Linked DNA regions of Homo sapiens. The protein of the gene in region 6 interacts with the protein of the main gene of each other region in a pairwise test. Each region holds a gene or a part of one and is shown on either strand. Other genes may lie near its edges. The genes, in order: SLC30A3, C14orf180, CREB3L1, MAL2, STX3, SLC35H1 and TSPAN33.

Region 1 (3,957 bases), on a different chromosome or scaffold from region 6:
TGTTTGGGGTGGGGTATGTTCCAGGTAGTAACTAGCTGGGGCCAGTGTGACTCACCGATGGCCAGGTGTGCAGAGGCAACATGGTAAGTGAGCGTAAGGGCCCACAGGTGCAGCTCATGGGTTGCCCGGACTCCTGGCACCGACAACAGCGTATCCCGCACAGGTTCGAACCCCACATTGCGGGGGGTACCTGCAACCAGCACCAGTCATGCCTTACTGCTAGGGCTACTCCTGCCCAGAAGCAGCACCCCCACCACTGGATTCCACCTCCCCTATCCTGTATGCACTCTCCTTTTGACCCCTACAATTCACCCTATGCCCAAATCCTTGTTCCAGCAGCAGACCCCATGAGCCAAGCCTTCTTCCCGTACTATCTTCAAAGAAAAAAGTGATGGCCCACTGCGAGAGTAAAGTCAGAGAGGGCCACAGGGATGGGGAGCTGTGGTGCCCGACTCACCTTCCATGAGGATTCGAAGAACGTCTCGGAGGGTGGGAGCGGTGGATCCAAGGGCACAGATGGAGAAGAGGAAGGTGCTGATGGGGTCGGCTGCCTTGTATTGAGGCTGCAGAGAAAGAGACCCCTAAGCCCAACAACCAGGGACCTTTCAGAGGAAGATCTAGGGGTATCTTGAACAAACATGACCTGAGAGGCCCCTCAAAACCCTGAAGAGGGGACAGGGAACATGACTCATGTCTGGGAGAGTCCTGGGAGGTGGGAGGGAGGAGCTGGAGGGAGGAGGAAGGAAGCTTTGGGACCTGGGAAGGAGTGGGCTGGGATGTGGTTGTGGGGAGGAAGGCTGGGGCAGGTCTCCAATGATGGTACCTTGAAGTAGATGAGGATGGAGGCAGCCAGTACCCCAAAGCTCTGCAGGAGGTCCCCCAGCACGTGCACAAATGCCGCCCGGACGCTGGTGTTCCCCAGGGGCAGGGGCTCTTCAGGCCCCTCCTCCAGCGGTGCATACTCTGCTCCCCTAGACCCGTGGCTGTGGGGGGGCCCAGCCTGGTGCAGCACAAAGGCCATTCTGAGGGGTAAGCAGAGCACCTCAGCCTAGGGCCCTGCTCCTGGCCTCCTATACCCCCATCTCCATGTCTCACCTCCCCAGTAGCCCTTTCCCAGCCCCTGGAAGAAAACAGCATTTTGCAAGAGAGATAAACAATGCAGCCTGGGGGAAAGAATACCAGACTTGGTGCCACACATGTGGATTCGGAAGCTGGCCCTGTTACTTAAATAGATATGTGACTTGGGCAAGTCACCTGTTGGGATTGACTGCATTAATGGTAAACTAGGGGTAATGCTACCTACCTCATGGGGTGGCTGTGAGGTTTAAATGCAATCATGTTGATGAAAGCCCTCATCAGAGTGGCTGGCCCATGGCAGGCCCTTGACAGAGATCTGCTGACTGAATTTTAGGTCTCTATCCCAGACCCTTCTCAGGCACACGCAGGGCAGCCCATGGAGAGCTGTGTGTGCGTGTCTGTGTGTCTGGTGGGGAGGAGAGAGCCAGCTCTCCCATCCTGGAGGAAGACCCCTCGCCCTGGGCCCCACAAGGTGCCTGCTCCATACTGGGACGTACAACAGGTTGGCACAGACTGCGATGCTGGCGGTCAGCAGCATGGCACCCCCCTCGATGTGGTAGTCGCTGTGCAGCAGGCGGACGAAGGCCAGGTACAGGAGGATGCCAGTGACCATCCAGAGGGAGACCACAGAGGCCAAAGCCCCCAGAGTCTCTGCGGGTGGGGGGGGAGACAAGCTGTCAGAGACCTGCTTGGGACCCTGACGGGTGCCCTCTGGCAAGATTGGAGAGTCACTGGGCCATGCAGGGGCCTTACCTGAACGGTGCCAGCCAAAGGTCATGGTGCGGGTGGCTGGACGGGTGGAGAGCCAGAGGGAGAAGAGGCTGCCCATCATGCTGCCCACATCCGCCAGCAAGTGGGCTGCATCGGTCATGATGGCCAGGCTGTGTGCCAGATACCCGCCTGCCAGGGTGAAATGATGGAGTCTGCTTCCATTTAGAAAATATCATGTAGTGTGTATAGGCATGGAAAATAAATTGGGGGATATACACCAAAAATGTGATTTGGGGTTTTCTCAGGTGATGGGACTACAGGTATAATTAACTACTGTTATGTTATTTTTTTCATTCATCTGTATTTTATTTTCTACAATGATTTATTTTAATAACAAGAAAATAGGGTTTTTAAAAGAAGTCAGCCCTGACCTACTGGCCCCGGACCTCGGCTGGAATTCCCTTTGTTGCTGTCCCTTATCCCTCCTACTTCCTGAGTCCTGGGCACCCAGCTCCCCTATCCCAGCCATCCCCATCTCTGCATCTGCACCCAGGAACATTCCTGGGACTCTGGGTGGAGAGTGGCTTGGGCAGGTATTTGGAGAATGGGGTTTAAGGGCTGCTCCCCAACTTACCGACCACCTCCCCAGCCATGAAGACAAAGCAAACGGCACAGGCAGCATATAGCTGCCTCCGTGCATGCAGCCTCTCAGGGGTAAGGCCCGGCGGCGGAAGGGGGTCCCTGTGGCAGTGGTGGAAGGGCATCTCCACAGGTTTGGACTCCTCAGGGAGGGGCTCTGAGGGCTCTGTGAAGAGACTGAGGCAAGCAACATGGTTCAACCTGGGCCTGGCCCACAGGCTGGCCTGCTCACTCCACGTCCTTAGTCCCCAGTGCTGGCCTCATCAGACCATCTCCTTCCCCAGGCCTGGTCGTATCTGGGAGCTGCATCGGCAGAGGGCCACATGAGAGACCGGGGCTAAATGAACAGGTCAGAGCCCAGCCTCCCTTTTCCTTCCATACACAGAGCCATAGAATTTCACAGCTGGAAAGCACCTTACAGACGGTCTAGTCTAACTTTTTTAAGAGATGGGGTTGGCCGGGAGTGGTGGCTCACACCTGTAATCCCAGCACTTTGGGAGGCCAAGGCAGGCAGATCACAAGGTCAGGAGATCGAGACCATCCTGGCCAACATGGTGAAACCCCATCTCTACTAAAAATGCAAAAATTAGCTGGGTGTGGTGGCACGTGCCTGTAATCCCAGCTACTTGGGAGGCTGAGGCAGGATAATCACTTGAACCAGGGAGTTGGAGGTTGCAGTGAGCCGAGATCGTGCCACTGCACTCCAGCCTGGCAACAGAGTGAGAGACTGTCTCAAAAAAAAAAAAAAGAGATGGGGTCTTGCTCTGTTGCCCAGGCTGGAGTGCAGTGGTGTGATCAGAGCTCACTGCACACTTGAGTTCCTGGCCTCAAGCGATCCTCCTACCTCAGCCTACTGAGTTGCTGGGATTATAGGTGTGAGCCACCGCACCCGGCTCTCATCTAACATTTTATTAAATAAATTAGAGGCATGAGGCTCACAGAGTTGGGGGACACATGGAGGCCAACCCAGTTAGTTGCTAGAGCTGAGACTAGACCCCAACCAATTTCTTATGCTAGGCACCCCAAAATGAGCAGGATTCCTACTGATCTCTGAGAGCTTTTGGTGAACAGGGCAAGCATGTACCTACACAATGATATAGAGCGAAGGTGGCCACTGTCATTAGGGCAGTTAGAGTGCTATCAGGGTTCTGAGGATGGAGGGCCAGACTAATTATAACGAGGAAATCAGGGAAACAGCTGTAAGAGGTAACATGAGAAGGGCCTTGAAGGATGGGAAGGATTTTGATAAAGACAGGTGAATGCTATGCCAGGCACGCCAAGGCAGTATGAAGGGAAGGTGGAGTGAAGTGTGGAGTGGGACTCAGCATGTGTTCCTGGCCTTGGTGTGCCTCCTTTCCAGGCCCACCTCCCAGAACCTCCACTCCTGGATCCTGCCCCCGCCCTCCCTAGACATGAAGCTGAAGTGTGGCCCTTTAAGAGACGAGCGGGACATTGGGGCCAAAAAGTCTGATTCCGGGCACAGAGAACTGATGGCTAGATTCCAGAGCTGGGGTTGTCATGGGAGGAAGG
Region 2 (4,025 bases), on a different chromosome or scaffold from region 6:
TTGGCCACTGAGGCCGATTCCTTAGCAAATCGGTTCTGGTTTCTCTCATTTCTATAAAAACACCAAGACTGAAGGAAGCCACGGTGTGTTTTAATAAAACAGTGTCTCCCAGTTAAGTGGTGGGACAAACAGGAACCACCGGGTGGATGGTCGGCCGTGCCCACCCGCCTCAGGCTAACCTCGAGGACGCTGGTCTGATTGTCCCTGTGTCTCTCCTGGGCAGTTCTGCCTGGTGTCTAACCGTGGGCCTCCCTGCTTTGTTCAGCCCTCCCCCCACGTAGGGTCTGGAGAGGCCCCTGGTGTTTGTCATCCACAGGGCTCCCTTCAGCTCTGCAATCCGGCGACAAAGCCACAACCACAGACGGTCTCCGGGACCCACAGGCCCCAGCTGGTGGGTGGTGCTGGCTGGCCCCGGGCTCAGCTGGGTGTGCCTGGCCTGCAGAGCTGGGCACAGATGGCTGTTCTGAAGGTCGGGGGTGTCTGGGCCCCTTGCTGTCCCCTCGGCTTCTACACCTGAAGCCGCCCCTGATGAGGGGTCCTTCCCTGGGGCCTCTCCAGACTCACGGGGCTGGGTAGGGGGGTCAGACCTGGGCTCAGAGGATGGCACCTCACATCAAAGGGACCCACCTTGACAACCAGACCCTTCCCTCCCCGTGGGGTTTCGAGGTCTGGATTCCCCACAAGCCATAATCGCAAAAGGCTGGGTTTGCCTCCTCCGAGCAGCCCCTTGAACACGGGCAGTGTGTCCCCCTCCTCAAGAGGGTGCACACGGTGATGGCCGGGCCAGGCCCTAGCAGCAGCAGGAGTTCCTGCTGGGACGAGGGAGGGGTCTTTGGGTGAGCCTGGGGAGCCTCAACTGTTAGCAGTCGAATCCTCTTTCTAATAAAATCTCACATGGACCCAACACAGGAGACAGGAGGGCTGTGCTGACTAGTGTGGCGGGGCCGCCTGCTGTGCCCCCCATGTCCGATCTCACGCCACGGGGTCCCCCTTTTCCTAGTTAGCCCTCAGGCAGCAGCCCCTTTTGGCCCCCATGATTCACCAAGCAGCAGGGCCAGGGCTCAGGCTGTCTCGGAGCCCCCGGAGTGCTTGAGCTCTCCTGGAAGCCCTGCCCGTCCTGCCCGTCCTGCCCGTCAGAGCCGCAGGAGGCCGCGCCAGCAGGTGAGGGCCACGTGCCGCAGGTGCAGGACAAGGCCGAGGAGCCGGGCCCGCAGGTCCTCCAGTGCCGTTGCCACGGGCTTGGCCCGGCCGCAGTATAGGCCCAGGGCCAGCACGAGCAGGACGCACACACACAGCTGCAGGAGCAGGGAGCCGCCGTGTGGCCTGGGCCGGCCGGGCACTGCGGCCAGAGGGCAGGCAGGGTCAGCGCCAGCCAGCGCGACCCTTCCCTGGAGGACTGGGGCTGGTGGGGAAGGGATGGGGAGATTCCACCCTGTCCATGCCCATGGCCCCTCCCTAGCCTCTTGGGGTCTCCTTGCAACAAGAGCTCCCCAACTGGGGACTCCTTAGAGGCCCTGGCCCTGTGACACCTCCCTCGGGGAGGGAGTGAGGGTGGGTGCACCCACGGAGGGGGCAGTGGGGCACAGGGATGTGGGCTCAGAACTCACCCCTGACAGTGGCTGTGGCGTTCTTGTCAGCAATGTCTGCGAAAGAGAATGGAGAGTCAGCTGGGGGCACCTGCCTCAGTCCATCGGGCGCCCCCGCCCTCTCGTCTCACCCTGCACCCCCGAAGGACCCTGAGACTATTCATCAGTGAGAGACCCAGGCCCAGCCGGTCCTGACACTTCCTCAAAGGGACAGTCATGATTTGAGAATCCGCCCTCATGTTCTCCTCCAGTTGCTGTTTCATGGACCGGGACTGTGTGTCCAGATGACCCCAGGGGCCCAGGTCTTACAGGGGTTGTGGCACTGAAGGCAGGTGGCCACGGCCCCCCCATGTCCTGGGCCCTGCCAGAGCTGTGTGGGTGTGGCCGGTGTCCCCGCCTCCCTCTGCTTGACTCCACCCTCTCCCAGCTGCTTGCTGCGGGTGCCCTCTTACAGTGGACGGTCACCGCTGGGGGTTCTCGGAACCACACGCGCCTCGAGGTCCTCTGGGGCTTGGCCTCTGGGCGGTGGTGCTCCGGCCGGCTCCGTTTCAGGATGGAGGGGGGGCACTTCCTGTTGTCCTCCTGGTGTGGGGGCGGGAAGCAGACTGGTGAGTCCCCGGCGGGAGGCCGCTGGTACCCAGGTCTGAGCCATGTGGGGCCCAGCAGCACCGTCCTGGAACCTGTACCCTGTCCTGGCTGGTGCGCTATGCTGGGCCTGTCACTTCCTGTAGGGTGAGGGGCAGCTCCTGGACAGGGACTGCAGGGCAGCCAGACTCAGCCTCAGGGGCCCAGGCAAGACAGGAGCCCCTCCTGACCCCGTCTCTTCACGCAAGTCCCCACTGAACCTCTCTTCGTCTGCCCGCTGTCTCGGATGCAGGCTGCTGGACAGGGTCCCCAGGACATGTGGACAGGGGGAGGGGGCTGCAATGGCAGAGGGGCTCTGGCTAAGGGGCCAGAGTTTGCAAGCTCTATGGGGCAGGGGCCGGGCCAGGGCCGTGAGGAGGGCTGGTTGGTGGCCTCGGCCTCCTTTTCCCTGGGGCCGAGCCTCCCAGGCTGCAGGCGGGGGCAGCTCCTACACATTTGCCTACCTGGGCCCTTTCTCTGCTGGTCTGCTCACGTGTATGGGCCCAGCCTGAGTCTGGAAGATGGAGTGGGAGTTTCGGGCTGCTGTGAACCTCAGCATCCTTGTCTGTGACATGGTGACAACTGGGGCTGAGGCACCCTGGGAGCCGGGCCAGCTCTGAGGTTGTTCCTGGCTGGGGCATTGCTCGCTGTACACAGCCTGCTGCTCGGCATCTGGCGAGGCTGCCCCGCGAGGGCGTGAGGCCTGCCCATGCTGAGTCTGGCCCAGCTCCTGCTGTGCCTGTGGCATGCCCCAGCCTGGCAGTGCCTCAGAGGCTGGATGGAGCCTCAGGGTCTGAGGTCTGGGCCCCTAACCCTAACACTGACCCTTGGTGACAGTCTTGACCTGTCCTCTCTCCACCCTCTTCCCTCCTCCAACACCCTCCTCCCTGAGCTGCCTCTTCCACAGCCCTCCATGGCTCCCACTTCCTCTGCCAAGCTGTGCCCCACCTGGGGGCCTCCAATCTCCTCTGCCAGACCAAATCCTTCAAGGCACCCATTGCCCCCCGCTGCTCCCCCCAGCCCTCAGTGATCCCCCTGCCCTCCTCCTATCACCCCCTGATTCCTGGGGTGGAGGATGGCCTTTCCACGTCTGTTGCTCCCTGCCCCCTCCAGCCCCCAGTGGAAGGCCAGCTTGCAGAAGCTGTGTCCCAGCGGCCCGCCTTACCCTCTCTGCCCTGCACACCCGCGGGCCCCACGCGGCCTCCTCATTCTTTCTGGTCTGACGTCGTGTCTCTGGCCGGGAGTCAGGGCTCACGGCTCCTGCTGCAGTCCTCATTTACTGGAACATGGTCCTAAGATAAGCAGAGACGTTATTTATTATTTACTGCACAAGTGGCACTCAGAGGAATGAAAATAAGAGGAGGAGAAAATTCTTTCCTGGAAGCCAGGCTGGCTTCCCGGGCTTGCGACCGGCCACGCTGTTGAGCAGACACCACTTTTCCTCTGTGGTGTCCCCAGTGCAGGTAAATCCTGTTCCCTGCTCGTTCAGAAATGCCATCGCAAGCAATTTCCTTTGCTGCCACGGTCTTCATAATTATCATCTTTAATGGCTGCATAATATTCCACTGGGCCGAGGTCCCGTCACTGAAAGTCACCCTCGATGATTGGGTATTCATGAGGGTTGCATTTTAGTATTGTCATTTGCAATGTTTGGAGGTCATGGATAAGGCTGCAAGAAACATCTTTGCTTTGTCTCCTTTCGGTAGCGGGAAGCCCTGGGGCTGGGGACTGGGAATTGTCAGGGCTCTGAGACCGGGTCCACAGAAAGGCTTCCCAGAGGGTCATGCCCACCTTTTTGGGCTGGTGCTGGTGGGG
Region 3 (4,025 bases), on a different chromosome or scaffold from region 6:
GACAGCCCAGGCCACTGACTTTTCTCAAAGCTTCAGTATTTTTAAAAAAGAAAAAAGACCAAAAAGGAAATTACAAAAAAAAGTGTGCTATATTCCAATTGTTTACATTTATGAGATTAATATTTTTAACCCACACTCTCAGGCTGAACTCCCTCCTCCACCAATGTGTAGATGACAGCATTCAGCTATAAACCCAAGACCCCTCTGGGAATGTGAACCCCAGACCCCTGGCTCCTAGCCGAGGTCCTGCCTGAGTCCCAACTCGGTGCCTCCTTTGTGTTCTGGGCATGTTGCACATCCTCCTTCTCTGTAAAAGGGGCTCATGAACCCCCTAAGGTGCTTCTAGCCCTGGGATTCCACAGGATGAGCAGCATCTTAAAATCCCTAGATGGGAGCGTGGCTGGCCCTGCCCCCTGCTGGCCACACGGCTCACTTGCTCTAACTGTACGTGGCTGAAGGCAAGAAAGGTCAGCCCCTCCCTGCCCCACCACAGACCCGTGGGATCAAGGGTCGGCGGCAAATATGCAGGATCTTTTGAGACCATCTCCAAGACTGGCTCTGAGACTCCTCAGGCCTTGCCAAAGCAGGAAGGGATGGAGTGACAGCAGCAGCAGCCAGGGAAGAGGAGACTTCAGAAAGGGAAACTGAGGCTCAAGGGGTTAAGTAATTTGCCCAAAATCATGCAGTTAGAAGCAACTGACATGCCTTCCAAATTCGGCCTGCCAGACCCTGAAGCCCACGCGAGTGAGGTCATAACCCCTAGTGGAAGGCACAGGAGCTGGCATTGTCAACAGTGAGCTCTCTGCACCGCAGTCCCCTCTCTGTCACTTGAGGGCTGAGCTGGGATGTAGACCAAGGAATCTCCAAGGTCCCTGCCAACTTGAACCTTCTGGGATTCTTACTCATCAGCCTACATTCTGGATTCTGCGTCCCACCCACAATATCATGATCTCTCTGGGGCTGCAGCCCAGGGCCTGCAATCCAGCCCCCAACAACGCCTTCCTCAGACAGAGCACCACTTACTTGCATGTTGGTAGTCATGTGTACAAAGCCATGCATGCTCTTGAAGTCCTTTCTGGAACAACAAGTCAGAATAGAAATAAAGAGAAATGCATGTTTGTTAAAAATGTCCATCTGATTCTATCAAGCCCTTACTTCAACCCATTAGGAGCTCTCATTGCCTCCAACTTCTTTGTCTAGATTCTACTTCTATTTATACCCCGGGACTCATTTCAGACTTTGACTTCTCAGGGAGCATCCTCGGAGCCCCCAGCCAATTAATGCCTCCTTCTGTACTACTGCTACCAGCCATTGAACAGCTACACTGTTCCAGACATTACCTCTTGTTTTATTCTCATGGCAACCCACATACCAAAGCCTGTGTGGCCTTCACAGTTGGTGTGGAAGGTGGCCCCACACTCAGAGGCTCACCTTCTCTGAGCTTAAGGTCTGAGCTACACTGCTTGGCCAGCAATCCTTTCTCTTAGGTGTGACTTGGCTTCTTTAAGCTCAAGAGCTTGCCTCTGTTCCCTTGCAGCTGTGCCCAGAACTCCAAGCCCAGCCACTTCCCCAACTGTGCAGGGCAGGCAACCAGCTTTAGGGAGGAGGTGGGTAGATGGCATGGTGGGGACAGACCCAGGGGCAGCTAATGGAGCTGGGCTTGTCTGTTCCTCAGGCCCCGGGAGAGATGACTCAGCTGCCAGTGATCAAAGCAGAGCCTCTGGAGGTGAACCAGTTCCTCAAAGTGACACCGGGTAGGTGTGTCCAGGGGAAGGGCTCTTTTCCCCTCCAGTCATAGGCAGATAGCATCCCCACTTCCTTGGTTCAGCCCATCCCTATCTCTTGACAACCTTCCCCCACCCAGAATATCCTCTCCACCCTGCCCTACCCACTGTCCCTCCATCCATGCCCACTCTTCGTCTAGTCCTCTTCGTTTTTGTTTTTTGTTTGTTTGTTTGTTTGTTTGTTTTTTGAGATGGAGTCTCACTCTGTCACCCAGGCTGGAGTACCATGGCACGATCTCAGCTCACTGCAACCTCCCCATCCCAGGTTCAAGCAATTCTCCTGTCTCAGCCTCCTAAGTACCTGGGATTACAGGTGCCCACCACCACGCCTGGCTAATTTTTGTATTTTTTAGTAGAGACGGGGTTTGGCCATATTGGTCAGGCTGGTCTTGAACTCCTGACTCAGGGGATCCACCTGTCTCAGCCTCCCAAAGTGCTGTGATTACAGGGGTGAGCCACTGCACCCAGCCTTCGTCCAGTCCTCTTCTTGCCCAATCTACTGCTGCCATCGCTCCTGCTTGCCCAGCCTGACCCTATGAGAGAGAGGCCCCAGTCACCTTCTGGGGTTGCTGAGCTAGAGCTTAGTGATCTTCTGGAGTTGCTGAGCTTAAGGCCCTGAACCCTGTGAAGTCAGAGGTCACAGAGGACCTCCCACGAATTCAGCTCCTATGATGTCTATGCCAAGGGCGAGCTTGTAAAGGAGCTGGGCCTCTGTGGTGTCAGATGAGGCAGCACCCAGGAATTGGCTACCCAGATGTCAACTGTCTTTCTGACCCTGCAGAGGGGCTTCTGATGTCATAGCTGAGACCAAGCGCCTGGCAGTCCGTGTCCCACAATGTCAGGGCTGGTGCAAGCTCATGCTCAGCTGAACTCATGATGTCCAAGTGGAGCTGATGTGCAACGTTGCTAACTCGGTTTCCCCTGCTCTCCCCAGAGGACCTGGTGCAGATGCCTCCGACGCCCCCCAGCAGCCATGGCAGTGACAGCGACGGCTCCCAGAGTCCCCGCTCTCTGCCCCCCTCCAGCCCTGTCAGGCCCATGGCGCGCTCCTCCACGGCCATCTCCACCTCCCCACTCCTCACTGCCCCTCACGTAAGGAGCTGGGGGTGGGCTGATCCCAGAAATGAGGAATTGAATACATCCACCTGAGCACACTGGCCAGTCAGGAGGGTTTGGGGAGCCCCGAGACTGATCCCCACCCTCATCAGAATTCAGAGGGATGCTTACCTGGCAGATGGGAGTTCTAATCCTTTTATTTTTGAGTCTTGCTCTGTTGCCCAGGCTGGAGTGCAGTGGCTCAATCTCGGCTCACTGAAACATCTGCCTCCCAGGTTCAAGCAATTCTCCTGTCTCAGCCTCCCAAGTAGCTGGAATTACAGGCACTTGCCACCGTGTCTGGCTTTTTTTTGTTTGTTTTTTTTTTTTGAGATGGAGTCTCGCTCTGTCGCCTGGAGTGCAGTGGCACGATCTCGGCTCACTGCAACCTCCACCTCCAGGGTTCAAGTGATTCTCCTGCCTCAGCCTCCCGAGTAGCTGGTATTACAGGTGCACACCACCACCCAGCTAATTTATGTACTTTTAGTAGAGACAGCATTTCACCATGTTGGCCAAGCTGGTCTCAATCTCTTGACCTCTTGATCTGCCCACTTCAGCCTCCCAAAGGGCTGGGATTACAGGCGTGAGCCACCGCATCTGGTCAGGAATTCAAATCCTTTCGCCCTGCCTCATGGTGAACAGGAGACTATTGCAGAGCCAGGACTAGAACTTGACATTCCTGACCTCCAGGGGATGACCCAGGCTGCCTCCAAGGAGCGCTGTGTGAGGGGAAGTGCCCAGATGGTCCAGAATCCCCAGGAAACATGGAGCTAGGCCCTGAGCCCTGGGATGGGTGTGGAGTCTCCCAAGCCAAGATTGTAGGGAGGGGTCTGAGGGAGATGCTGTTTGGGGCACCCTGGACAAGTAAGCTTTGAGGGTGCAGTCTCAGGGATGGGATCCAGGAAGCCCTCCCGAACAATGCACTAAGAGCCTAACACCTGAGCTCTCAGCATGGCCCTGGCACCTGACACATGTTACTGAATTTCACCCAGATCCACTCCCTTTCCAGATGAGGAAACTGAGGCATAGAGCATTGTGTGCCTTGCCCAGGTCATATAGATAGCACATGGCAGAGCTTGAATTTGAACCCAGGGCTGCCTGGCTCCTAACTACCACATCATACTTCCTACAGAAATTACAGGGGAC
Region 4 (3,930 bases), on a different chromosome or scaffold from region 6:
TATTTGTGAATCCCTAAGCACTGTATTTAAAAATTCAGCATGAAGTTCTGTTCATGTAGTGGCTTCACAGCCAAGGAAGCCAGCAACTATCAGAACCTGAGGATGCATCAAATAATTTCTATGATGATGGAAGGTAACTTTAAAACTCAACTAAGACAAGTGGAAATGAATTATCAGGTTGGCTTGCTCTTGTATGGGAGACAGTCCTGTGTACAAATCTGCACTCTACTTGGAATTAATGAGAATTTCTTCAGCACCAACTGTGTGTATATCACTATACTTGGTACATATAAACAAACAGTAGATAATGTCCTCACCCTTTTGGGGCTTATGATCCATAGAAGACTAAAAGACAAAGCAAAAGCAGTTCAACATGATAAATGTTTGATAAATGTTGTGGGTTTAGCACAGGGATTCTTAACCAGGAAACCAGTTCTGGGAAGGAATACCAGATTCACCTATAGACCATTTTCACAGTTTACTATTCTGCTTTTCTTTCCACCCTTCTTCTGCTGATTTTTTCTCTGATACATTTCTAATCTAGACATTGTTTTCTGAATGACAGCAATAGCTTTTGATACCTATTTTTTGATACCTATTATTTGATACCTATTATTAGGGAAAAGGAATTTTCCTCTCTAATTTCCCAAATGGATGGCTAATACATTTTAGTTACAATAAAACTCAAACTAGAGATTTACTTAGACTGGAGTGAGCATATGGATGAAATGGGATGTAATGTTGAACTTGAAGCATGTAGAGGTTTACTGAGACAGCTTCACTTAGAAAGGGAAGGACAACAGGGACAAAGTCACAAAAGAGAAGCAGCCAGAACAGAACTACATTATGGAGAACACGGAAAACTAGGCCCTTAGGACAAAGGTGACAAATTAAAGACCTCAGACAACCATCACGTATTTCAGCAGCTACTATTCTTGTGAAAGTAGGTTCTAGGGTGACTGTCAATAGATTTGGGGCTACTTCAATGATCCAAGATACAAGAATCTAGCCTGCACCGTTAAAATGAAGGGACTGGAAGTAAGAAACACATAAAGGCAAATACAATGGGAATTGATGACTAATAGCATAGGAAAGTCCCTGAACTTTGCTTTGTAAAGCTGTTAAAACCAAGGGTTTTCTAATGTGGATCACAAGGATTCTATCATCCTCAGGGATGATATGGGTGGGTAGAGGCAGCTTTATGAAAAGAGAATGAGCATCATTCAAGGCCCTCTTCCTCCACTTCAACTAGAGCACTTACACTTTTATCTTCTAGATTTATTGGGGTTTTAGGTAAGAATTGATTAAATAAAACCTTTATTTCTTTTATAAGCAAGTGTTAAAGTCATGAATCTACACTATAAACCTTTCAAAGCTAAAACCATGACTCCTTTTTGTTGTAATCCCACCTTCAGCCTAATTCATTGCAGGCACTCAATAAATTTTGACAAATCCTACCAGAGACTTGGGAAACTTACAATAGGTCTTGAAATCATTTGTCTTGTACCCCTCAAAACTCACTCTAGACATGTATTATCTAACATGATAGCCACTAGGCACATGTGATTATTAAAATTAAATAACACTAAAAATTCAAGTTCCTTAGTCATACTAGTTATCTTTCTCTCCCCCGACCAGAGTCTTGGTCTGTCGCTCAGACTGCTCTGCTCACTGCAACCTCCGCCTCCTGAGTAGGTAGCACTACAGGCACAAGCCACCAGGCCTGGCCAATTCTTTATTCTGTTTTTTTTCCTTTTTCAGAGACAAGGTTTTGCTATGTTGACCAGGCTGGTCTCAAACTCTTGGCCTCAAGCAGTCCTCCCACCTCGGCCTACCAATGTGCTGGGATTACAGGCATGAGCTATGATTCCTTGGCCTAGTTAATTTTCAACTGCTCAATAGCCACATGAAGCCAGTGGCCACCATTTTGGACAGCACTTACATGAAATATTCCTGTCATTATAGAAAGTTCTACTAGACAGTGCTGCTCCAGACAGATTTCAATGACTATATGAGTACTGGGTTATTTATAGGCTACCTGGGGAACATAATAAAACATTAGGGTCACTAACTTGCCATATACTTATATTAAATATCACAATATTTCAGAAACTAATTTGGACTTCTGACATCTTAACAATGATCTCTAACAACAAAAATAATATATTATTTCCTCAAATTATCTACACAAAATGACAAATTCACTCCAGTATACGAATTAAAGATGATTTAAAAAATTTAATAAATACCCCAAGGAATATATTTCATCTGCCTATCATCTACTGCAATGGCTGGCATATTTGCCTCCCTTTCTCACCTGCACTTTCCTTAATGGCAGGAACTGCAACTTATTCACCCCATCCTCAACACCCAGCAAAATTACTTGATAAATGGTAGGCCCACAGTAACTATTCATTCAATAGAAATAAATTGCAAGCAGCTATTGAATACTAAAGAACAAAACTGGAAATCTCCTTTACCATCTCTGAAAGTTATCAGAAGCAAAAAACACAACTCTTTTTGCAAAGTAGACACTGCTGTGCAAAGCCAAGCAGTCCTACTGGCTTGCTATGATCTTACATGAACATCAACCTCTTCGTGCTACAGTTTAATCATCCACAACACTGGGGGTGATCATGGCACTTTGCTTACAAGGTTATTGTACAGATAAATAGCTATTACATATTTAATGCCAATGGCTAGCATTGAAGAAAACTATTGTTGCCTGAGGAGTTTCTTGGAGGCCTTGACAGTGGAGCGGAAGTGCTGGTGAATGGTACTCATTGAATATGAATACTTACTGAGGCTGCTACGTTTATGTTATACTGGTTATCACTCAGGAGTGGCTGCCCGGTTATGGTTGTATTGCAATGCAAATCATGCAGGGATGTGGCTGCTGCTTCCAATAAAAAGGCTCCAAAATAGAAGACAAATACTGTAAAATGGTAGGCAAAATCCTAAAAGAGGAGAGAAAAGACATCTGCAATTAAAAAAAAATATTTTTCTGTTCCTTATTTTAAATAATGAAGTTTAGGTTTAGCAAGATCAAAACATTTAATTAAACAATCTTAACTATATTCACTGTTAAGCTTAGCTGCTTTAGAAATGTTAGACTATCAGAACCCAAGCGAAAATCAACTGACCCATCTTAATTGGCACATTGGTAAACCTTTCCATATACTGAATTTTATAATATGTAATTTTATTTTTTTATTATTATACTTTAAGTTTTAGGGTACATGTGCACAATGTGCAGGTTAGTTACATATGTATACATGTGCCATGCTAGTGTGCTGCACTCATTAACTCATCATTTAGCATTAGGTATATCTCCTAATGCTATCCCTCCCCACAACAGTCCCCAGAGTGTGATGTTCCCCTTCCTGTGTCCATGTGTTCTCATTGTTCAATTCCCACCTATGAGTGAGAATATGTGGTGTTTGGTTTTTTGTTCTTGCGATAGTTTACTGAGAATGATGATTTCCAATTTCATCCATGTCCCTACAAAGGCCATGAACTCATCATTTTTTATGGCTGCATAGTATTCCATGGTGTATATGTGCCACATTTTCTTAATCCAGTCTATCATTGTTGGACATTTGGGTTGGTTCCAAGTCTTTGCTACTGTGAATAATGCCGCAATAAACATACATGTGCATGTGTCTTTATAGCAGCATGATCTGTAGTCCTTTGGGACCCAGTAATGGGATGGCTGGGTCAAATGGTATTTCTAGTTCTAGATCCCTGAGGAATCGCCACACTGACTTCCACAATGGTTGAACTAGTTTACAGTCCCACCAACAGTGTAAAGGTGTTCCTATTTCTCCACATCCTCTCCAGCACCTGTTGTTTCCTGACTTTTTAATGATTGCCATTCTAACTGGTATGAGATGATATCTCATTGTGGTTTTGATTTGCATTTCTCTGATG
Region 5 (4,025 bases), on a different chromosome or scaffold from region 6:
TAGTAGAGACGAGGTTTCGCCATGTTGGCCAGGCTGGTCTCGAACTTTTCTGGCCTCAAGTGATCCACCTGCCTGGGCCTCCCAAATCGCTGGGATTCCAAGTTTGAGCCACAATGCCCGGCCACCTACATACATTTGAATAGTCATTTTAGAGATATATAAATGCAAGAGATATCATTCAGTCTACAGATATTTCTTGGTGGGCTAGGCATACCACCTTCCCATACCCTCACTCCCCCCATTTGGGAGAGTATAGTTCAATGAAGCTACTGTCATAGATTCAGTTCTTCCAGAGCCTAGAAGGTTTACTTAGTTCTGTTGCTAGAGCCTGCATTCTTGCCCAGTGTATTTGGTGCATGCATGCTATTGATCAGAAGAGAAAGCATTATTGCTCAGCTCAATTTACCATTTCTTCCCCCCAAGTATATTGCAATAACTATTTTAACTGGAGGAGTCATTAGTAGCAGATTCCAGTAATAACAGTGATAGTGCACCTGCCATTGTGCTAGGCACTTTATGTGTCTTCTCATTTAATCTTCACATTAGTATTGTGAGGGAGGGACTGTTATTCTGTTTTACAGATGAGAGAACAGGTACATTAAGAGGGGTTAAGTGGCTTTTTCAAAGTCACACCCAGTAAGTGCCAGGGCAAGGATTCAAGCCTAAGTCTCATGGTGACCAGAACCCATGCTGTTAACTGTTATGCCAAAACCTGGTCATCGTAAAGGCTGTGGAATGCACGTCCTGTGGCTCATCTGGGAGCTGACCTTTTGAGGTGACACCTACCTGTTACATCTCCGTGGGCTGGATGTGTGGGAATGAGTGAGGAAGTTTCACTGAATAGCATGTTTCTTGGAGGCGGAGATAGGTTGCAAGTATAACCTTCCTCTCCTCTTTAGGCATGGAGAAGCATATTGAAGAAGATGAGGTCAGGTCATCGGCAGACCTTCGGATTCGGAAATCCCAGGTAAGACTTTTCCTGGTCTCATGATTAGCTAGTCCAATCTCTTATTGTTTTCCCTTAACTGTGGAGGGATTTTTTTTTTTTAATACAATCCTTATTTTGAAACTCAATTTGAAGACCTGGTAAAGGAGAACTCTCCAGGTTGAAATAGGGGTCAGGGCCAGAGTCCAGCCCTTTTGGCTCCTCTCCTGTACTCTCCTTCTCTAAGGAGGCCCCTGAAGAGCTTTTCAGGCTTCCTAGAGCACAGCTTAGGATTTAGCGTGCCTTCTTGTTTTACAGGAGAGGAAATTAATGTCTTCTAACAATTGTTAGTCATTGGTTGTCCAGTTTGGAGCTAGGCACTTTAGGGGTCATCAAAGATAGGATCCTTGTCCTTAAAGAACTGGCATGCCATTGAAGCGGCATGGAAAGCTATTACCTAAGACCCAGCAGGAGGATGCGACCCAGCAGGAGGATGCGATAAGAAGACACATGCATGGTGCTCTCAGCATCAAAAGATCTCAGGAAGAATGGGGGGTAGCCAGAGGAGGCTGGGCCAGAGTGCCAACATGAGCAGCCTCAGGAAGTAGTTTCCCCTCTCTGAGAGGCACAGGGGCAGGAGTGAGGCACGCACATATGTGTGTGTTGGCAGCAGTGGTTGGTAGTGGTGGTGGGTAGACGTAAGGGGCAGACGTGAAGACAATAGGCTTTCTGTAGAAAAAAGTTTGCTGTGGGATAGTGGACACATAATTTTTAGTAGATAATGTAGTGCCACATTCTAGAGGTCTTTGAGGACCAGTCTGGGGAATTTGGATCTGATGTTATAACTTACAGGCATTTGCTTCAGGCGGCAGTATATTAGGAGGATTATTATGGTAGCCATTTGAAAGCCGTTTACAAGTGGGAAAGAAGCAGGAAACTGGAAGGTCCCTAGTTAGGTTTTTGCAAGGGTTTTGGTCTAAATTTGTATGGTGGTAGTGGGTTTGGAAAAAGTATATATATTGGCGATTTTCCAAAGGAGAAACCAGTAAGTAGGGCTTGATGCTGAGAGGTGAGCAAGGAATAAAAATTATTAGGAAGGTTTTAGCTTAGGCATGCAGGGCTGTTGAGATAATGCATCTACTTATAAGCAAGAAGAGTTGGGGAGATGAGTTTAGCGTAAGAACTCAAGGATCTTTGGTAAGTATGACATGTGGGAAGGGAATCTGACAGTTTTAGAATGCAAGCCAAGTGTTGTGCCAGAAAAATGCTACTAGTCCATGTGGATGTAGGGCTCAGAGATTTAGAGATGACCTCTGGCCTCGCAATTACCACGTGAGGTCAGCAGTAAACCGGTTTCAGTAAACTGGTGCTGAAACCATGCTCTGGAAAGGGCAGTGGACTCTCCCAGTGGCACAAAGCTAGGAAACAAAAAACTTGGTTTGACACCTGGTTTTTTGATTCCAAGTCCAGTGCTATTGTAGATGGCTATGTGGGGGTGGGGAGGGGTTCTATAACAGTTACAGAACCACTGGGGCCTGACTGCATTTTACATCATCCCACAGCACTCTGTCCTTTCTCGGAAGTTTGTGGAGGTGATGACCAAATACAATGAAGCTCAAGTGGACTTCCGAGAACGCAGCAAAGGGCGAATCCAGCGGCAGCTCGAAATTAGTATGTACTTGAGGTTTGGCGTGTGCCCTCCACCTTTCCTGCCACCTGGTTGTCCATCCCAAGTTTTGAGGCCCTGGTGGAGCAAGCAGGAAGCACATTTTGTGCCTAAGTCTAGGGCAGCTCCTGCACCACTGGCACATCCCGAATGCTGTGCTGTAGGCTGAAAGGTGACACCGTGTTTATCAGGCCCAAGTAATTTTATTGTATGGGGTCCAGCATTGTCTCCTATATAGAGGGGAAATGCTTGCCAAACAGTTGCTCTCTTGTGGACTCATTGTATCATTTTGCTGTCTGTTTGACAGCAAAGCACATTTAAGAAATAAAAAGTGTGGTGTAAGTTGCTGGGAGGATAAAAGTATGGTGTAAGTTGCTGGGAGGATTAGAGAAATAAATAAAGCCATACCCTTTAGGAATGTAGTAATGTGGAAGGCAGGGCCCCGTGGAGTGGAAGGTGCTTTGGATGAGAGGAATGGTATGAACATAATCAAGAAAGAGCAAGTGTGTTTAGGAGTGGCAGGTTGTCTAGGGTCTGGAGAAAGGGTGTGTCTGGAGTAGCATAAGGTTAGGATGGATTGAGGGAGGGCTTGCCCATGAACTAGCATGTTATGAGGGCCTTGGACACCATAGTGTAGTGAATGGGGCAAGGAAATGTTCTGAGCTGGGAAGCAATGTAATGAGATAAGTGCTTTAGGAAGGTAACTGCTGATAGTGTTAAGGATGGCTTGGATTAGGGCAGAAATAAGATGAGTCAGGAGGCAATTGGGGGAGTGTTGTAAAGGCCACGGTCTTTATAGGGAAGTCACGTTCCTAATTTTCAGGGTCCTTATCAGATGGTGTTTCACCGTGATCTTATATTTGACGCTCTACTTCTTTTGTTACAAAGCTGGCAAAAAGACAACCGATGAGGAGCTGGAGGAGATGTTGGAGAGTGGCAACCCGGCCATCTTCACTTCTGGGGTGAGTGCCCTGTGTGCTCGGATAGCACATCCCTCTCGTGAGCAGGGAGGCCACTGCGGAGCTCATGCAGTCCAGCAGGTGGAGGGGGAGCTGCAGGTGCAGGGAGTTCAGGGAGGCAAGGAGCTCCCCAGGAGCGTGCATGAGGGCTGTGGCAGGGGCAGCCTTTCTTGCAGGGGTAGCTAACAGTCTGTGTGTGGCCTGTTGTAGATCATTGACTCACAGATTTCCAAGCAAGCCCTCAGTGAGATTGAGGGACGACACAAGGACATTGTGAGGCTGGAGAGCAGCATCAAGGAGCTTCACGACATGTTTATGGACATCGCCATGCTGGTGGAGAATCAGGTAAGTGGCAGTGAGTCCCAGCGTGGGGAGGGAGGAGAGGAAAGCTCAGGGTCTACTGAGAACAGGGAGAAAGGGAATACTGGAAGCCAGTGAGGTAGGGTGGGAGAACCATTGGGAATTTGCATAAAGG
Region 6 (4,025 bases):
AGGGGGGGTTTTGTGGGTGTGTGGTGGGGCAGTGGGAAGGCACGCAGTGCACAAGAGGCAGCAGCGTGGGTGGTGGGAGGCCAGGTCAAGAGGGCAGAGGAGGAACAGTGCAGGAAGAGGGGAGGGACTTGGCTTCCAGACATGCGGGTGTCTCTCTTGTTCTCATCCTATGGTTCCCCAGCCCCTCTTCCTGCTCTGCCCTCACTGAGGTCCCCCACCTACCTGTGGGAGCCACTCTTCTGAGGTAGTCGGCCCAGCTCAGCACCACACGGGCCCTGTGGCTGGAGCACTGAACCAGCGCCCTGGACAGGGCGGAGAAGAGGAAGATCACGGCCAGGTGCAGCATCGTCATGAAGAGGGGGAAATGGAAGCTCTGTATGGAGCCCAAAGCAGACACCCCGGCTTGGTTTAGACAGCCTGCCCCCCACCGGCTCCCTCTTCCTCTTCGCCCCTCTGCTGGAGTGGGGCTCATTCGGTGGTTCATGAGGACCTTGCTATGTGTGTAGGGCCCTTAGTTACGGTATCATCGCTTGGAATGACAGACTCTTAGGTCACGAAGACAGGTGGCAGCCAAGAGACTCAATCCTAGCCTGGTGCTGTCTCCACCATTTCAACACACCTGTGAGCTACCTGCCCAGCCTTCCTCACGGCCTATGCCCAAGTGAGAGCCACTGCGGCCCACTACGTTGTATCACTTATTAAAATATTGAAATACTTCTCTAGTGGGGTAAATAGCTGCTGCTTGAGCCCCAGTTTCCCCAGCTCATCCCTTCACACCCCCCGCTCTCCTTGGTTTCCCTGGATCCAAACACTGAAGGGGAACCCTGGCACGGCAGGCTTGGAGGGCCCTGTTCCAGCCCAGCCGTGACTGGCTTCCAGTTAGACTGGTTGAAGCTTGTGCCTTCCTGTTAAACATGAAGGGCACCGTAGCCATGGCTCTGGCCACCTTCATCCCAGCACCCCGCCCCAGCAAGGCCTCCTGGTACCTTTGTCAGCCACTTGTTGTAGAAGGTGATGCCGATGGAGAAGCAGTAGTAGAGAAGCACCAGCCCCAGGGTCAACACCGCCTTCCACAAAAAGGCCACATCGAGGGCCCACCTCCCCATTCGTGGCGGCTGCAGCACCGGAGCTCCTGAGTCAGCGGGGGCAGGCACCCCTCTTGAATACAATGTGCAGGAAGAGCCGGTGGAGTTAGACCACAGCTTTCACCAAGAACGTCTCCAGGCTGGAGGAGCTCTCTGCAGCTCCATGATTCGGAACCATCAGCAGAGCCCCAGGCAGAGTCCTCACCTAAGGGGCTGGTGGCTGGTGCTGACCCTTCCCATGGTTAATTGGATGCAGCGCTCACAGGTCCCAAGGTCTGCTGCTGGGGAAAAAGGGCCGCTCTGGAGCCTCAGGCAGAGACTGTGCTTCTCGTAGCCATGGGTGCCTCTGAAGGCTGCGTGACTCAGGGCTCTGGAGGGGCTGCCCACAACGGCACAGGCAGTCCCAGAGACCCACGTCGTGTCTGCTGTCTTGTCACCTCAAGCTATTCTCCATGAACTGCCACCAAAGTGACCTTTTAAAACACAAACTGATCATGTCAGGCCACTGCTTAAAACCCTTCAGCAGCTTCCAGTGCTTTTCTGATAAAGACCAGCACCCTTCTTTCGGCTCCCATGGCCTCATCTGGCCCTGCTGGTCTTCCCAGTCTCAGCCACAGGCTCTCCAGGACCTGGCCCCACTGGGCGCCTTTCAGCTCCCCAAACACACCAGCTTTCTTCCCGTTGTCTGAAGGAAATGAACGAACACTGCACCCACCCTTCAGTCCTTCATCAATCCTACCTATCTTCAGCTCAGAGGTCACTTCTTCAGGGAACCCCACCCCATCCCCTGAATCAGTCCCCTGAGATACATGTTGCTTTCACGGCTCTCCTACTTCTCTTTCATAGCACTTGTGCAGGGTGTGATTTGAGTAATGTCTGTCCCCTGAGAGGCTACGAGCGGCACAAAGATAGGGACCAGTAAGACCACACTGGCCTTACGCACAGCTGGTGTACTTTAAGTTCTCCGTCTGGTTTGATGACTGACAGAGAGCAGGCATGCGATTTTCAGGGGACTGGTCTGGTCTTTAGGGGTTAAAAATGGAGAAGGAAACCAACACTCTAACGGCTGGAACACTGTAAGACCAGGCTGTAACCACTACTCCCTGGAAGCAGAGCCTGCCTTACGGTATTGCCAAATGAAACCACTCCCAGCCTCCCTGTCAATCCAGCCAACCCTGATGAGTGCCCGGAGCATGCCGGGTAGACCTGTCTGTGCCTGGAGGAGCCTCAGGTCCAGTGTTATGTGATGATACCTGCTGCTTCATCTGGGTGCCCCCCTCAACCACAGATCCTCCTTTGAGACATTCCCATCCTATTGAAACGCCACCTTCTTCTCGAAGCCTTCCTAGGCTTCACGATCAGACACATTCTCCATCTCCCACCCCAACATTTCTGAAGGGAGCAGTTACATTCCATTCTGCACTCTGGAACTCTTGTTACTATTTCCCCTCCCCGGGGCAAACAGGGAGCTGGCTGTGTCCAAATGAATCTCTGGGGCTACAGTTGTCTTCAGAGGAGCTTTGGAAACCTGTGGCGGTATTTTGGGGATATGCTCCTGGCGTTCAGTAAGCAGGGATAAAGAAGGGGCAGTCCACATAGCCAATTACTGCTCTGCATCCCGCACGACTTTGACATCCATATAGGTGAAAGATTAGCTTATAATTATCTGAACCTAGAATGTAACTCTGTTTACATGTAAACACAGTGCAGTGTTTCCATGGTTCTGCTGTGAACTAACACTTCCAAGAATAAGACGCCTATGTACAATGAAGGGAGACTGAAAATGGTCAAAATTGGTCTCAAAATGGCACCAAAAGTGTCCATTCTGGAAAAACCACATCATCTACAGCAATGGCACTAGTGGTTTTCGAGGTGCGACACAACACGGCTGTGTCAGTCTGTGTCTGTGGCCATCACACTCCTAGAGGGTCCACACAGAAGGGACAGCTTCACTGCAACTTCCAGCACTATTGTGCCCAGAAACTTACATATTGAAACATATTTTGTTTTACTATCAATTACTTTCCTTTTATGTTATAGGGCATGGTTATTTATATTTTATTTTATTTTTTTTTTGAGACGAAGTTTCGCTCCTGTTGCCCAGGCTGGAGTGCAATGGTATAATCTCGGCTCACCACAAGCTCCGCCTCCCAGGTTCAAGCGATTCTCCTGCCTCAGGCTCCCTAGTAGCTGGGACTGATTACAGGCATGCACCACCACACCCGGCTAATTTTTTATATTTTTAGTAGAGATGGGGTTTCTCCATGTTGGTCAGGCTGGTCTTGAACTCCCAACCTCAGGTGATCCGCCCGCCTTGCCTCCCAAAGTGCTGGGATTACAGGCGTGAGCCACCGCGCCCGGCTGCATTTGTTGATTTTTAAAAAATTATGTGTAGGCAGTTTTTATTAATCATATGTTTCATTTTAGGGTAATAAAAGGGACTGTTACAAAATATTTGTAATAAAAAAGAGGTGTCAGATCCAATGAGTTGAGACTCCTACCTGACCTAATGCATTCTCATTCCTTCAAATGCCTTCTGTAAGCTGATGTCTTCCCAATATATGCCCCGGCTCTGATTCATGTGAACTCCAGAAGAATATCCAATGCCTACCTAACCTCTTCTTCCCTTAGATATCTAATATCAGGCATCTCACTCACATCTAGAGTGTCTGAAACTGACTCGTGTTTTCCACACCCCCATTTCATCCAAGCCTGCTCCTCTTCCTACTTCCCATCCCAGCAAATGGCTCCACTACTCTCCTAGTTGCTCAGGCCAAAAGCCTTAGGCTCATCTGATTCCTCTCTTCCCCTTAGCCCACATTCAATCAATAAATACCGTCAGCTCTATCTTCAGAAATATCCCAAATATGAGCACATGTCCTGAACTCCACCACTACCATCTCAGCCACCATCCTCTCCCCAAATGACTGCAGGAGTCTC
Region 7 (4,025 bases), on a different chromosome or scaffold from region 6:
GTGGGAGGGTGGCAATGCATCGGTTGAAGGAGACGCGCGTGTGGCGGGCAGCAAGGGGGAGGTGTGTGGCGTTTAGGAGAGTCTCCAGTGCCGTCCTCTGCAGGGCCCTTCTACACCTCCCCTTCCAGTTGCCAGAATGGAAAATTCATGGAGTCCCGCGTAGCCCAGGTCAACACGCTTTTATTGCCACTTCTGGCTCCCCTCGTCCCAGCAAGATTCCTACCTCTTACCCTGTAGGAATACTGAGCTCCGATGCAGGGGAATGGGGTGGGGGTGTTACCACTTCTCCTCTGCACACTGCCAAGTTAAAGAAAACCCTGCTTGCTGGAGAGGGAGGGCCAGACAGGGAGGAATTCAAGGGCATGTATGGCTCAGTCCCACTTCTGACTGCAGAGTATAGGGACCAGGGTTCCAAACTTTTTTTCGAAGTAAGGGAGGTGGGGAAGAATTTGGCTGCTGTTGTACCCCGTGTCCTAGCTGCCATGTTTCCATGGAAATGAAGGCGGGGCAGGATGTAGCTCACTCTGACTACCTGGGAGGATGGCAGGACAGGCATTTGGTAAACATATCTCCCTCCACTCCTACCTAGCACATACGGCTGTCCCCAGCCGACCCCCAGGCTCTCTCCTCACTGCCTGCTCCACTCCCTTCCCTTCTGGAGCTGGTATCATGCCAAGTGGAGTCCAGGCAGGGCTGCCAGTGCTACTCTCCACAGCCAGGTCTCACTGGCACGTTAGGATCTAAGTATGTCCGCCAAGCTCAGGAGCATCCCTGCTAGAGCTGGTGGTGGCAGTGCCTCGGTGAAAAGGCAGCAGCAGTACCCCCAACTCTCTGTGCAACTGCTGTTTCCCAAACAAAACTGAAAACATAAACCCAAACACTTAAGGGTATCACTCTGGCACAATGCTGAGGGCTGGGATGGGGGAGAGGAGGCGCATCCTCCTGAGACTGGAGCCACCTGTGCACCCTGCCTTCTGCCCATCTGGAGTTTGCTTCTTCCCACTGGGCTGTCACTGGGGGGCTGGAATCCAAATCTCCATTTGGTGCTGCTTTCAGCACCCACTGCTGTTCGTTTATGAGGCTTGCCAGTTTCCATGGTGAGGAGGTGCAGGATGGATTCTCAGTACCATGGGTCAGCCCGGTGCTGCTGGTTGTAGAGCTGTAGCTTGATCTGATCTTTGATCTGATTCACTAGGATCTGGGACAGCAGAATTCCCACCAGCTGGGAGAGGCAAGAAGGAATTGGGCACTCAGCAGTGAGTGATGGCCTTGTTTTCCCTGGCTCGATCTTCCCAGTGCGGCCAGCACTATCCCTTTCCCTACCCCTCAGCCATGTCAGTGCCTGACACCCTCGCTGATCCCCAGGTGCCTTCCCCAAAACAAAGGAGTCTTTACAGAGTGTGTGGGACCAACAAGTCTCACAGGGTAAGTTACCTGGGGGATGGCCAGGCCTAGAGCCACACCACCAAGTAAGAATAGGTTGCTGTGTATCCAGTTGACCAACTTGTCAATACAGCCATTGGTGTAGATGACTTTGCTAGCTTCCAAGTAGTCAAAGGCCTGCATACCTTGGCCACACATAGTGTTGATCACTGCCTGGGGAAAGAGTTGAAAAGCCAATTGGGACTGTAATTCCAATAACTTTTTGTTTGGGGCCTTAGCTGATGGGCTTCCCACCCTTCCCAAACTCCTAAATTGTCAGAGAATATATGTGGAGGATATTGGGTTGGAAGTTGCCAAATGCAGACTTCCCTTCCTCTGAGAGGTCAGGATCCAGGTCTCTTTGCTCTGGGTGGTGGAATAATCTGTACAACAAACCCCTAAGACACAAGTTTACTTATATAACAAACCTGCACAGGTACTGAATCTGAACTTAAAACTTAAATCTGTCCCTTCTGAACTCCATGTGGACTACATGAGTATGAGGTTAATAGAAGCATCAGGTTGGGGTGAAGAAAAACACCTGACAGCTGTCCCACATGACTGATCGGTGAAGCTAGGGGATGGGGATCCCCAGTAGCAGCTGCCCCCATCAGAAAGTGACTCAGCTCGCTGCCTAGGAGGAAATGAGGCAGGATGCTGGCTCACCTGGTCAGGAGTAGGCAAGCAACAGGAGTAAGGCACAGAGCAGCGCTCTCGACTGGGGTTGTCTTCTGAGCAGTTGAAATACATGTTCTGAGACCAGTCCTTGTAGGAAATCCCTCCACAGCAGCTAAACTGCAACAAAACCCACCAGAGGTTAAGAATCACCCACCCCTCACACTGAGGTGACCAGGGGAATTCTCAGAGCCACCAAAAGTCTATAGCAAGCTTCTACTGGGAACTTTAGGTTGTGTTTTAACACAGCCTTAAACTTTGAGCTCCAGCTTCCCAGTTGCCTTCGCCTGAAGATATTCTCACTTCTTAATTTCTATTACTTCGTATATCTTGTTATAACTTACCACTGTGCTTGTTGGTATTACAGTTGTACATATATTTTGTTTTACATACTCAGCTATAATCTTCTTGAGAGAAGTTTCTGGCTTTGCAGGCAAATGGAAGTGATCAAAAGTATTGGCTGAAATAATTACAGTATCAGTGCTGAAAAACTTCTCCTTAAGATAGAGAAAACACAGGGGAGGAATCTTCAATATTGTGAGTCAATCATTACTCCATGAGAGCCAACTGGATCTCAAAGTCAAGTGTCTATTGCACCAGAGGAAGGGGAACTCAGGACTTGTCTCAGAAGCACTTTTACTTAAAAGTTAACTTTTTTGGCCAGGTGCTGTGGCTCACACCGGTAATCCCAGCACTTTGGGAGGCCGAGGAGGGCAGATCACCTGAGGTCAGGAGTTCAAGACCAGCCTGGCCAATATTGCAAAACCCCATCTTTACTAAAAATACAAGAATTAGCTGGGCGTGGTTTGGCAGGCACCTGTAATCCCAGCTACTCAGGAGGCTGAGGCAGGCAGATTCACTTGAACCCAGGAGGCGGATGTTGCAGTGGGCCAAGATCACGCCATTGTACTCCAGCCTGGGTAACAGAGCAAGACTCCGTCTCAGGGAAAAAAAAAAGTTAACTTTTATTTTTCACTTATTTATTTTTGAGACGGAGTCTCTGTCTGTCACCCAGGCTGGAGTGCAATGGCATGATCTTGGCTCACTGCAACCTCCAACTCCCAAATTCAAGCTATTCTCGCACCTCAGCCTCCTGAGTAGCTGGGACTACAGGTGTGCGCCACCAAACCCGGCTAATTTTTGTATTTTTGGTGGAAACAGGGTTTCATCATGTTGGCCAGGCTAGTCTCAAACTCCTGACCTCAAATGATCTGCCTGCCTTGGCCTCCCAAAGTGCTGGGATTACAGATGTAAGCTACCATGCCTGGCCTAATTGTTAACTTTTGATTCATAGCAGCCTTGTTCACAGTAGCCGAACGGTGGAAGCAACCCTTTTCTCCACTGGTGAATGAATGGATAAACAAAATGTGGCATATACATACAACAGAATATTATTCAGCCTTCAAAAGGAAGGCAGTTGTGGCACATGCCAAAACAGAGATGAAACTTGAAGACATGCTAAGTGAAATAACCCACTCAAAAAAGCATTAATACCGTGAGTCCCTTCATTTGAGGTACCTAGAGTTGTCAAATTTACAGACAGAAAGTAGAATGGTGGTTGCTGGAGGAGAGGAAAATGGGGCTTTAGTGTTCAATGGATACAGAATTTCAGGAGAGGAAAATGGGGAGTTAGTGTTTAATGGATACAAAGTTTCAAGAGAGGAAAATGGGGAGTTAGTGTTTGATGGATACAGAGTTTCAAGAGAGGAAAATGGGGAGTTAGTGTTTGATGGATACAGAGATTCAAGAGAGGAAATGGGGAGTTAGTGTTTGATGGATACAGAGTTTCATCTGGGGCAGATGAGCGTTCTGGAGATGGTGGTGATGGTTGCACAACAATTGAAGGTACTTCATGCCACGGATCTGTATGCTTAAAAATGGTAAATTTTACATTATGTAAATTTTATCACAATTTTTTAAATGTAATT

Evidence for each region.
Region 1: the proteins of SLC35H1 (region 6) and SLC30A3 interact in binary tests that used the Homo sapiens proteins (3 or more experiments, as listed by UniProt).
Region 2: the proteins of SLC35H1 (region 6) and C14orf180 interact in binary tests that used the Homo sapiens proteins (3 or more experiments, as listed by UniProt).
Region 3: the proteins of SLC35H1 (region 6) and CREB3L1 interact in binary tests that used the Homo sapiens proteins (3 or more experiments, as listed by UniProt).
Region 4: the proteins of SLC35H1 (region 6) and MAL2 interact in binary tests that used the Homo sapiens proteins (3 or more experiments, as listed by UniProt).
Region 5: the proteins of SLC35H1 (region 6) and STX3 interact in binary tests that used the Homo sapiens proteins (3 or more experiments, as listed by UniProt).
Region 7: the proteins of SLC35H1 (region 6) and TSPAN33 interact in binary tests that used the Homo sapiens proteins (3 or more experiments, as listed by UniProt).

The regions. Positions count from the first base shown.
Region 1 is NC_000002.12:27,256,331-27,260,287, forward strand, and holds part of SLC30A3 (probable proton-coupled zinc antiporter SLC30A3), read right to left. Parts: intron 2,605-3,957; coding exon 2,423-2,604; intron 2,001-2,422; coding exon of another isoform or gene 1,978-2,000; coding exon 1,831-1,977; intron 1,729-1,830; coding exon 1,575-1,728; intron 1,023-1,574; coding exon 824-1,022; intron 564-823; coding exon 458-563; intron 191-457; coding exon 56-190; intron 1-55. UniProt on the Homo sapiens protein: Probable proton-coupled zinc ion antiporter mediating the import of zinc from cytoplasm into synaptic vesicles and participating to cellular zinc ion homeostasis in the brain.
Region 2 is NC_000014.9:104,585,892-104,589,916, reverse strand, and holds part of C14orf180 (nutritionally-regulated adipose and cardiac enriched protein homolog), read right to left. Parts: intron 3,503-4,025; 5' UTR 3,487-3,502; coding exon 3,376-3,486; intron 2,169-3,375; coding exon 2,039-2,168; intron 1,644-2,038; coding exon 1,608-1,643; intron 1,340-1,607; coding exon 1,134-1,339; coding exon of another isoform or gene 1,039-1,133; 3' UTR 1-1,038.
Region 3 is NC_000011.10:46,308,314-46,312,338, forward strand, and holds part of CREB3L1 (cyclic AMP-responsive element-binding protein 3-like protein 1), read left to right. Parts: intron 1-1,675; coding exon 1,676-1,754; intron 1,755-2,718; coding exon 2,719-2,876; intron 2,877-4,011; coding exon 4,012-4,025.
Region 4 is NC_000008.11:119,239,192-119,243,121, reverse strand, and holds part of MAL2 (protein MAL2), read right to left. Parts: intron 2,958-3,930; coding exon 2,802-2,957; intron 1-2,801. UniProt on the Homo sapiens protein: Member of the machinery of polarized transport. Required for the indirect transcytotic route at the step of the egress of the transcytosing cargo from perinuclear endosomes in order for it to travel to the apical surface via a raft-dependent pathway.
Region 5 is NC_000011.10:59,789,620-59,793,644, forward strand, and holds part of STX3 (syntaxin-3), read left to right. Parts: intron 1-899; coding exon 900-967; intron 968-2,487; coding exon 2,488-2,596; intron 2,597-3,479; coding exon 3,480-3,553; intron 3,554-3,760; coding exon 3,761-3,895; intron 3,896-4,025. UniProt on the Homo sapiens protein: Potentially involved in docking of synaptic vesicles at presynaptic active zones. Apical receptor involved in membrane fusion of apical vesicles.
Region 6 is NC_000020.11:46,357,401-46,361,425, forward strand, and holds part of SLC35H1 (solute carrier family 35 member C2), read right to left. Parts: intron 1,559-4,025; exon of another isoform or gene 1,364-1,558; 5' UTR 1,326-1,363; coding exon of another isoform or gene 1,291-1,325; 5' UTR 1,159-1,290; coding exon of another isoform or gene 1,107-1,158; coding exon 987-1,106; intron 374-986; coding exon 223-373; intron 1-222.
Region 7 is NC_000007.14:129,164,970-129,168,994, reverse strand, and holds part of TSPAN33 (tetraspanin-33), read right to left. Parts: intron 2,218-4,025; coding exon 2,089-2,217; intron 1,597-2,088; coding exon 1,435-1,596; intron 1,223-1,434; coding exon 1,121-1,222; 3' UTR 1-1,120. UniProt on the Homo sapiens protein: Part of TspanC8 subgroup, composed of 6 members that interact with the transmembrane metalloprotease ADAM10.